Homo sapiens: one gene and its partner. The protein of the gene in region 2 purifies or fractionates together with the protein of the main gene of each other region. This does not show direct contact. Each region holds a gene or a part of one and is shown on either strand. Other genes may lie near its edges.

Region 1 (3,825 bases), on a different chromosome or scaffold from region 2:
GAGGGGTGGTCAAACCAGTGGGCCTTGCTTCCAACACACACACAGCCCGTTCTCTAAGATAAATTGATATTGATCTATTGTCAGTACTTAAGTAATGATATTTCCCTTGATCATACTCTGATCATGATCATTGATAAAGCAATTATGATGACATGAGCTGTATCTCCTCCATCATACAAGGAGCTCCCTGAAGGCAGGGACTAAGCCTGGTCAACAGGTCTTCCACTAGTCTATATGGTACCACTGTGCAAGTTATAAGACATGCTCTCTGTGTAGATTCCCCAGAAGCACTGTGGTAGATGGTCTCCAAAGATAGCCATCCTCCATTCCCTCCCTTCTTATGCAACTGCTCACATCAAGGTGTCATCTAATCCTCTTCCCTTGGAATCTGGGCTTTAGTGGCTTGACAACAGAAGCAGTCTAGGCAGCGGAAGAGACGCTGGACAGGTGAGGTCTAAGAAGCCTGCTGCTTTTCGCCTTGGTTCCCAAACACATGCGGAGGCCTTGTGTTTTCATCCCCAGCTGAGCTCCCAGCCAACAGCCAGCATCAACTGTCAAATCTGTGATGGGAGGAGCCATCTGGGCCATCAGATGAGTTTGGCTTTCAGAAGACTCCAGCCCAGCCATTGTTCGACTGCCACTGCATTGGGAGCCCAAGCAAGAACCAGCCAGCTGAGCCCAGTCAAGCTGACAGAATGGTGAAAGAGAAGAAGCTGCGTTCTGAGCCAAACTTCTGGACTGGTTGGCTATGCAGCCTGAGAACTGAAACAGACACCCAGCTTGGTAAGTAGTCATGATCTGGGTTTCTGCAATGAGCAGTCTGGTTAATCTCTTGCATGGCTCTGGCCATGAGGCTGTGTCATTGTTTCTGCTCAAAGAGCCCAGGTCAAGACTCAAGGAAACCTTCCCAGGCATGATCAGCTACCAAGGACTTAACAAATCCCTAAGAAAGTATCAAAAGAATAGCCTGCAACTGATCTGATTGTACCCCCAACAGGGCTGAGTGACCAGAGCTGGGTTTCTAGAAAGGTTCTGAGGAGCTAGGGCATGGATGTGGGTGTCCTACAGGTCCCAGAAGACTTACCAATGGTGGTAATGACGGTCGCTGCAAAAATCATTGCATTGGGCCAGTTCCAGTTGTTGAAGGTCTGGTTCCCTGTGATGGCCACACCCTGTCCTGCAGCATCAGATACCACCTAAAATGAGAAACAGTAAAGGTCAGAGCTGAGGCCACACTTAACAGATGCTGATTGACAGAACTGCACTAAACTCCTTGTAAGCATTTTCATTTAGTCATCACAAGAAGAAGGTGGCAGTGTCTCCATGTTACAGATGAAACATTGTATAGAGGATCAGAGAGGTTACCTGATTTACCCAAGGTAAAGATATGAACCCAGGCAATCTGGCTCCAAAGTTCATTCTTTCACTGAGTCAATGCTTCTCCAACTTACTAGCATGCACCAGGATCACCTGGAAATCTTGTTCAACAGACTGCTGGCCCCTACTACTCCGAGTTTCTGATTTAGGAGGTCTAGAAGGAACATTTCTAAACATGTTCCCAGGTGATGCTGTGGACAGGGACCACACTTTGAGAACCACTGCACTAGATTAATTCTGCCTCTCAAAAAAAGCACATGTGAGGCAGACACACACAAGGAGGTCCCCTGTGCCTCACCCAGCCCTCCATGGAGGGTGTTCTACCTGCAGAGACCAGGTCCTTGTTCAGGGTTGGCTGGGGAGGGGCCCCCCATATACCCTTCAGCCTACTGTAGGATACCTGCTCAGGTCAGCTCAGTGCCCTGTTGACTTGTCCTCGGAGGGCATGCAAATCAGCAGGTCCTCCTTTCCCCCAGCCTAGGACTCTAATGTACCCTCTCCCCTGTGGGATCTCACTTCCCTCCCTTCCCTGTAGCCCTTTCTCTCTCTGCCCTGGGCTGAGCAGCTGTCTGGGAAGGGACAGATCAGAGGGTGAGTACATTTCAGGGTGACTCATAACTGTGCTATCAATCCCCAAAGAGCTTCCAGTAACTGTGGATAGCAGGTGAGAGGCCACCTGGGGATGGGATGTCCCCCTGGAGAGTGCGAGGAGCGGTGGGGCAGAGGTGTGGGGAACTTATCTACTCCTACAATACTGACAGCTGCAAACCTGTTTCCATCTGACTAGGCCCCAATTCTGCTATCACCACTGGCTCCAACCTATCTGTGGGGCTTTATCAGCTGGCAGGGCCTGGACCCCAGAAGTCACATAAGAAGGGACTCTAAATCTGGGGCTCAAGTCCTGTCCCCAAGGAGCGCCTGCAGATGGGTAGGCCATCCAGACCAGAAGCTAGGCATTCAGCCAAATTGCCTATAAAAACCAAGACAAGGACTGAGAGAGAAGAGACAGAAGAGTGAGGGATGGAAACAGAGGGAGACAAAAAAAACCTTGTTTCTAACCTACCCAGAGCATGACTGAGGTTTGGTGGGAAAAAAAGGGCATGGGTGGGTTGTTCTGAAGGAAAGTGTAATTTGCAGAAGCAGCAGCCGGCCTGCGTAAATGGATCTGCACACTCTGCAAAGAATTTTCCATGATGGCACGCTTGTCTGTCAGACCATCAAACCACACAGCTCACTGCGCTGCCTCCTCCGGCATTTCACAGCATCTCCGAGGCTACGAAGGCTGTGCAGCATCAAAGTGGAAAGTGGGGACCATCGCATCAAACTCTGGCCAAGGCAGCCCCTGCCCTCAGAGAGCTCTCTGTCTAGCTGGCCAGACCATTTCAATGTGAAATGGCTAAAGGACATTTAGATACTAACAGGCCAACAGGAGAGCTAAAACAAATACTAAGGACCATCCAATGGGTTTCTGAAAACATCAAATCTGTTTGGAGCAAGAGAATGAGGAAGTACCAGGGCCACGTTAATGTTAAACAGATGGCAGAGAAAGCGGAACCACCCAGCTCTCCTTTGGCATCTACCTTTGCTACCTCAGATATCGATCTTGAATGGGACCGGCCTACAAGAAAAGAGTATATAAGAACATACAAGAACATCTTGAAATGATAATTGAATCACTGATCACAGGTGAGGCTGCAGCACCACCTCTGGTCATCCCCATGGAATCATGGGGAACAGGAAAGATGTCAGAAGACAAGCTGTTCCCATTTTTCACAAAAAGGAAAAGAGTGGATTCTAGAAATTCAGAAAACAAACCTGAACTCTTGCAAACTTCAAAATGGGGAGAGGAGAATGTTTGGAACATGCAGAAGAGGAAGTAGTGGGCACTAGAAACTAGCACAGATTCACCCAGAACAAGTCATGCTCAGCTAAGTGCATCTCCTTTTCAAAGGGTTGCAAAGCCTTGAAGTTCTGTGGAATGTAATCCATCTAGATATCAGCAAGGCAGCTAACAGATGGGATTAAAGAAATTCATGTGGACAAGACACAGAAATGTCAGTGGAGCCAGGATTAATTGGGTCCATTCAAAGGCAGACAAACAACCCTAGGAGGTATTGATCATTATCAACCCAGACTGAGTCTCCACCATCATGCTTAAGGCCTGGTTTTCTTCAATATTTTAAACCACAGCACAGTGAGGACAGAGATGGTTTACTAATCCAATGTGCAGTGGATGCAAAATTGGGGATAAGGATGGGATGGGAAGATAGCTAACACATAGCAATGGCAGTATCAAGATTCAAAATCATCTGGCTGGATATAGGGGCCAAAATCAACAACATACAAGTATCCACTTAAATGTTTAAGTCTTATACTTTGGATTGGAAAAGACTGGTAGAGGATTGAAGGGAAAAGTCCCTGGATATTAGCTGACCATGGATCAACAAA
Region 2 (3,246 bases):
CAACCCCTAAAAAGTAGTTGATCTCTACCTACTTTCTGCCTTCATCAGCTGATAACCTTACAAATCCTTAAAAACTCTTTGGGACCCCAATTCTCAGCATGATTGCTTGGTCCAGTGCAGGCAGTGGCTTTATTGATGAGAATTCTGCCTGTGAAGCGTTCTTTAAACTCATTAAAAATAAAATGGAAATAAAAACTAGCAGGGTTATACATTAGAAAGGAATGTGTTTTACTGCTATCTATAGGTATGGGACAGATGTTGATAGGTTCAAAGGGTAAGCAGGCATTTCAGGTACCATATTTGCCCCTCTAGGAGGGATTACAGAATTGGAGCCTGTGGTGCTCCTGCTCTGAGGTTCTGAGCATGTCCATACTATATTTTTATTTTCTTCTTGTCTACCCTACCCCGGGAAGAGAAGCTACCAAGAGCTCTATATCCATGAATAGCAAAATAACCACATGGCAGTCAGCACCAATGTGTCTAAGCAATGCATCTGATTCTCAAGTCCCCAATCTTATTTTTATTTTGCATTTTAAAGAAAGCAGCATAATATATAAATGGTTTTAATTTTGTTTAACAAGATTTCAATTATTGGTAGAGTACACTTTAGGGAGGCTAGCTAAATGTGTAAATGGAAGAAAATACACTGAAGAATAAAGATAAAATCACCAGGTGACATTACATATTTAAGTAAGTTGAAAATGTAACTCATTTTACCAATATTGTTATTTACACAGAACTTTAAAATCATTCACACATTATATATGATAAAGTATATATAAAATTTAAGGAAATTATTTTATTATAGAGAAAGACGTTTAAAAATTTTCACCCACAATAAAATTAGCTCTTATTTATTATTTTTTGAGATGGAGTCTCGCTCTGTTGCGCAGGCTGGAGTGCAGTGGTGAGATCTCGGCTCACTGCAACCTCTGCCTCCTAGGTTCAAATGATTCTCCTGCCTCAGCCTCCCAAGTAGCTGGGATTCCAGGTGCCCGCCACCAAGATTGGCTAATTTTTGTGTTTTTAGTAGAGACGGGGTTTCACCATGTTGGCCAGGCTGGTCTCGAACTCCTGACCTCAAGTGATCCGCCCTCCTCGGCCTCCCAAAGTTCTGGGATTACAGGCGTGAGCCACCGCACCCGGCCCAAAAGTAGCTCTTATTTTAAGTAAGTAAGTTTTCATAAACAGGTAGGCCTGTGACTTATACTGCCAAACCCAAGGTTTGGAATAATGAATCTTTGGGATGGCTCATGTGAGGCACTTCACTTACTGGTGAAGTAGGAGATAGCTACCTAATCCTCCCAGAAATTTTACATCGTAATCCTTTCTATTCCCTGCTCAACAAAAAAATAGAATAAAATTTAGAGAAATAGTGAATACTTATTGAGAGAAATCCCTACGGTCTGGAGAAAAGGGACTAGCAAAACTACTGTAATATGTGCTGCAAAACAAAATTCCAAGTGAAAGACACTCTCCCTGCAATGCTACAGGCCCCACTCTATCTTACACTGCCTTTGCTAAAACCTTCAACATGGTTAATTGGATAATATTCCCCCTGGAAACATATTTCCGATTTTATAGCAGAAGTTGATGGGAAATAAATTCACCTTGTAGAAAACTGCTTTACAAGCAAATGTGCTAGAATAGTTTTATAAAGTGAAGGATATAAGCATTATTTCACTTACATGAAATAAGCAAATTTTTGCTTCCTTTTAAAAATCTGAAGGTCAGATGGTGTGTGAATAGAACATGTATGTACTTGAGTAGCATGATTCTAGGTATTGATATATGCAATAAAAGAGATCAAAGCTTGCCAAGTAATTATTAAGTACTCCTTCTTTGCATTACACGAACATCAAAATATGTGCTACCTCAACAGCATCACTGCACTGACTGTGCATTCACTAACTTAAAATATATGTCTCGATTTCTCAGGAGCTCTTGATGAGTTCCTTGTTCCTTTATCTTTCCATTGTGCAGAACCACTATCAAATCTGCGTTCTGAATTGCAGAGAGCCTGTGAGTGACCACTAGGCATGTCCTTCCCGTCCTGGCTTTATCAAGGGCATGCTGAACCACCTGGAAGAGAGAAAGACCTGTGATCACCAGTTTGAGTTAGATGTTAGTAAACTTACCTAAGTCAAATCAATTAAGGTAGTCTAATAACCTTCTTTGCTTTATTTGCTTGTCCCCAAAGGAACTGCCCTACTTGTAAAATAATCACCTTACTCAATAGAAATCTAGAAATATTAACTACAGCTGGGCACATTGGCTCATGCCTGTAATCCCAGCACTTTGGGAGGCCAAGGCAGGCAGATCACCTGAGGTCAGGAGTTCGAGACCAGCCTGATCAACATGGAGAAATCCCATCTCTACTAAAAATACAAAATTAGCTGGGTGTGGTGGCAGGCATCTGTAATCCGAGCTATTTGGGAGGCTGAGGCAGGACAATCGCTTGACCCTGGGAGGTGGAGGTTGCCGTGAGCTGAGATCGTGCCATTGCACTCCAGCCTAAGTGACAAGAGTGAAACTCCGTCTCAAAAAAAAAAAAGAAAGATTAGCTACAGATAAATTATGTAAGACTTTCAGTGGAAAAGCATTTGTGAGAATGAATAAAAATGAAATAGTTGTTTATATGTTAGTGGTTCTAAACTCACAGTCAGGAAGTAGTATTTCTAAGTAGAATTATAGTAGTATTTCTACTACAATTTCTTTGAGTAGTTCTAATACTATTCAAATTTCTACTATCATTTCTTTGAGTAGTTCTAAACTCAAAGTCAGGAAGTAGTATTTCTAAGTAGTATACCTAAGTAGAATTGTCTAATTTATTTATCTAATTTTCTCTCATAGATTTTGTTTTGTTTTTGGTAGGATTTAGCTGTAGAACTGTCCTGTTAACATAGCATTTCAGCCAACAGTGAGGTTATGACGCTATATAGAGAAAGTGGGAGTGGAAGGTGAAAACCCATATTTGTTGAATACATAAAATGTTCCCAAGATGGATATCTCATTTAAATTCTTTCAATAACCTCATAAAATGACAGTATTTTTATTTTTCTGATAACTGAACTGAGGTTAGACCAAGGTCATACTGCTAGTAACTGATGAAGTAAGGATTACAGCCCAGATATGTCTGATCCCAAAAGTTAGTTGTTGTTTATTTTTCATAACACATTGTTGCTTTGAGAATCAAGAATAATAATCATCTTCAAGCAGCAATCATGGGTGGATTAACTGCCTGGG

What was found.
Region 1: the proteins of ABCB5 (region 2) and KCNK5 fractionate together in Homo sapiens (co-fractionation; one large-scale study listed by BioGRID). This does not show direct contact.

Annotation. Positions count from the first base shown.
Region 1 is NC_000006.12:39,194,792-39,198,616, forward strand, and holds part of KCNK5 (potassium channel subfamily K member 5), read right to left. Parts: intron 1,197-3,825; coding exon 1,085-1,196; intron 1-1,084. UniProt on the Homo sapiens protein: K(+) channel that conducts voltage-dependent outward rectifying currents upon membrane depolarization. Voltage sensing is coupled to K(+) electrochemical gradient in an 'ion flux gating' mode where outward but not inward ion flow opens the gate.
Region 2 is NC_000007.14:20,754,263-20,757,508, reverse strand, and holds the end of ABCB5 (ATP-binding cassette sub-family B member 5), read right to left. Parts: intron 2,083-3,246; coding exon 1,885-2,082; 3' UTR 501-1,884; downstream 1-500. UniProt on the Homo sapiens protein: Energy-dependent efflux transporter responsible for decreased drug accumulation in multidrug-resistant cells. Specifically present in limbal stem cells, where it plays a key role in corneal development and repair.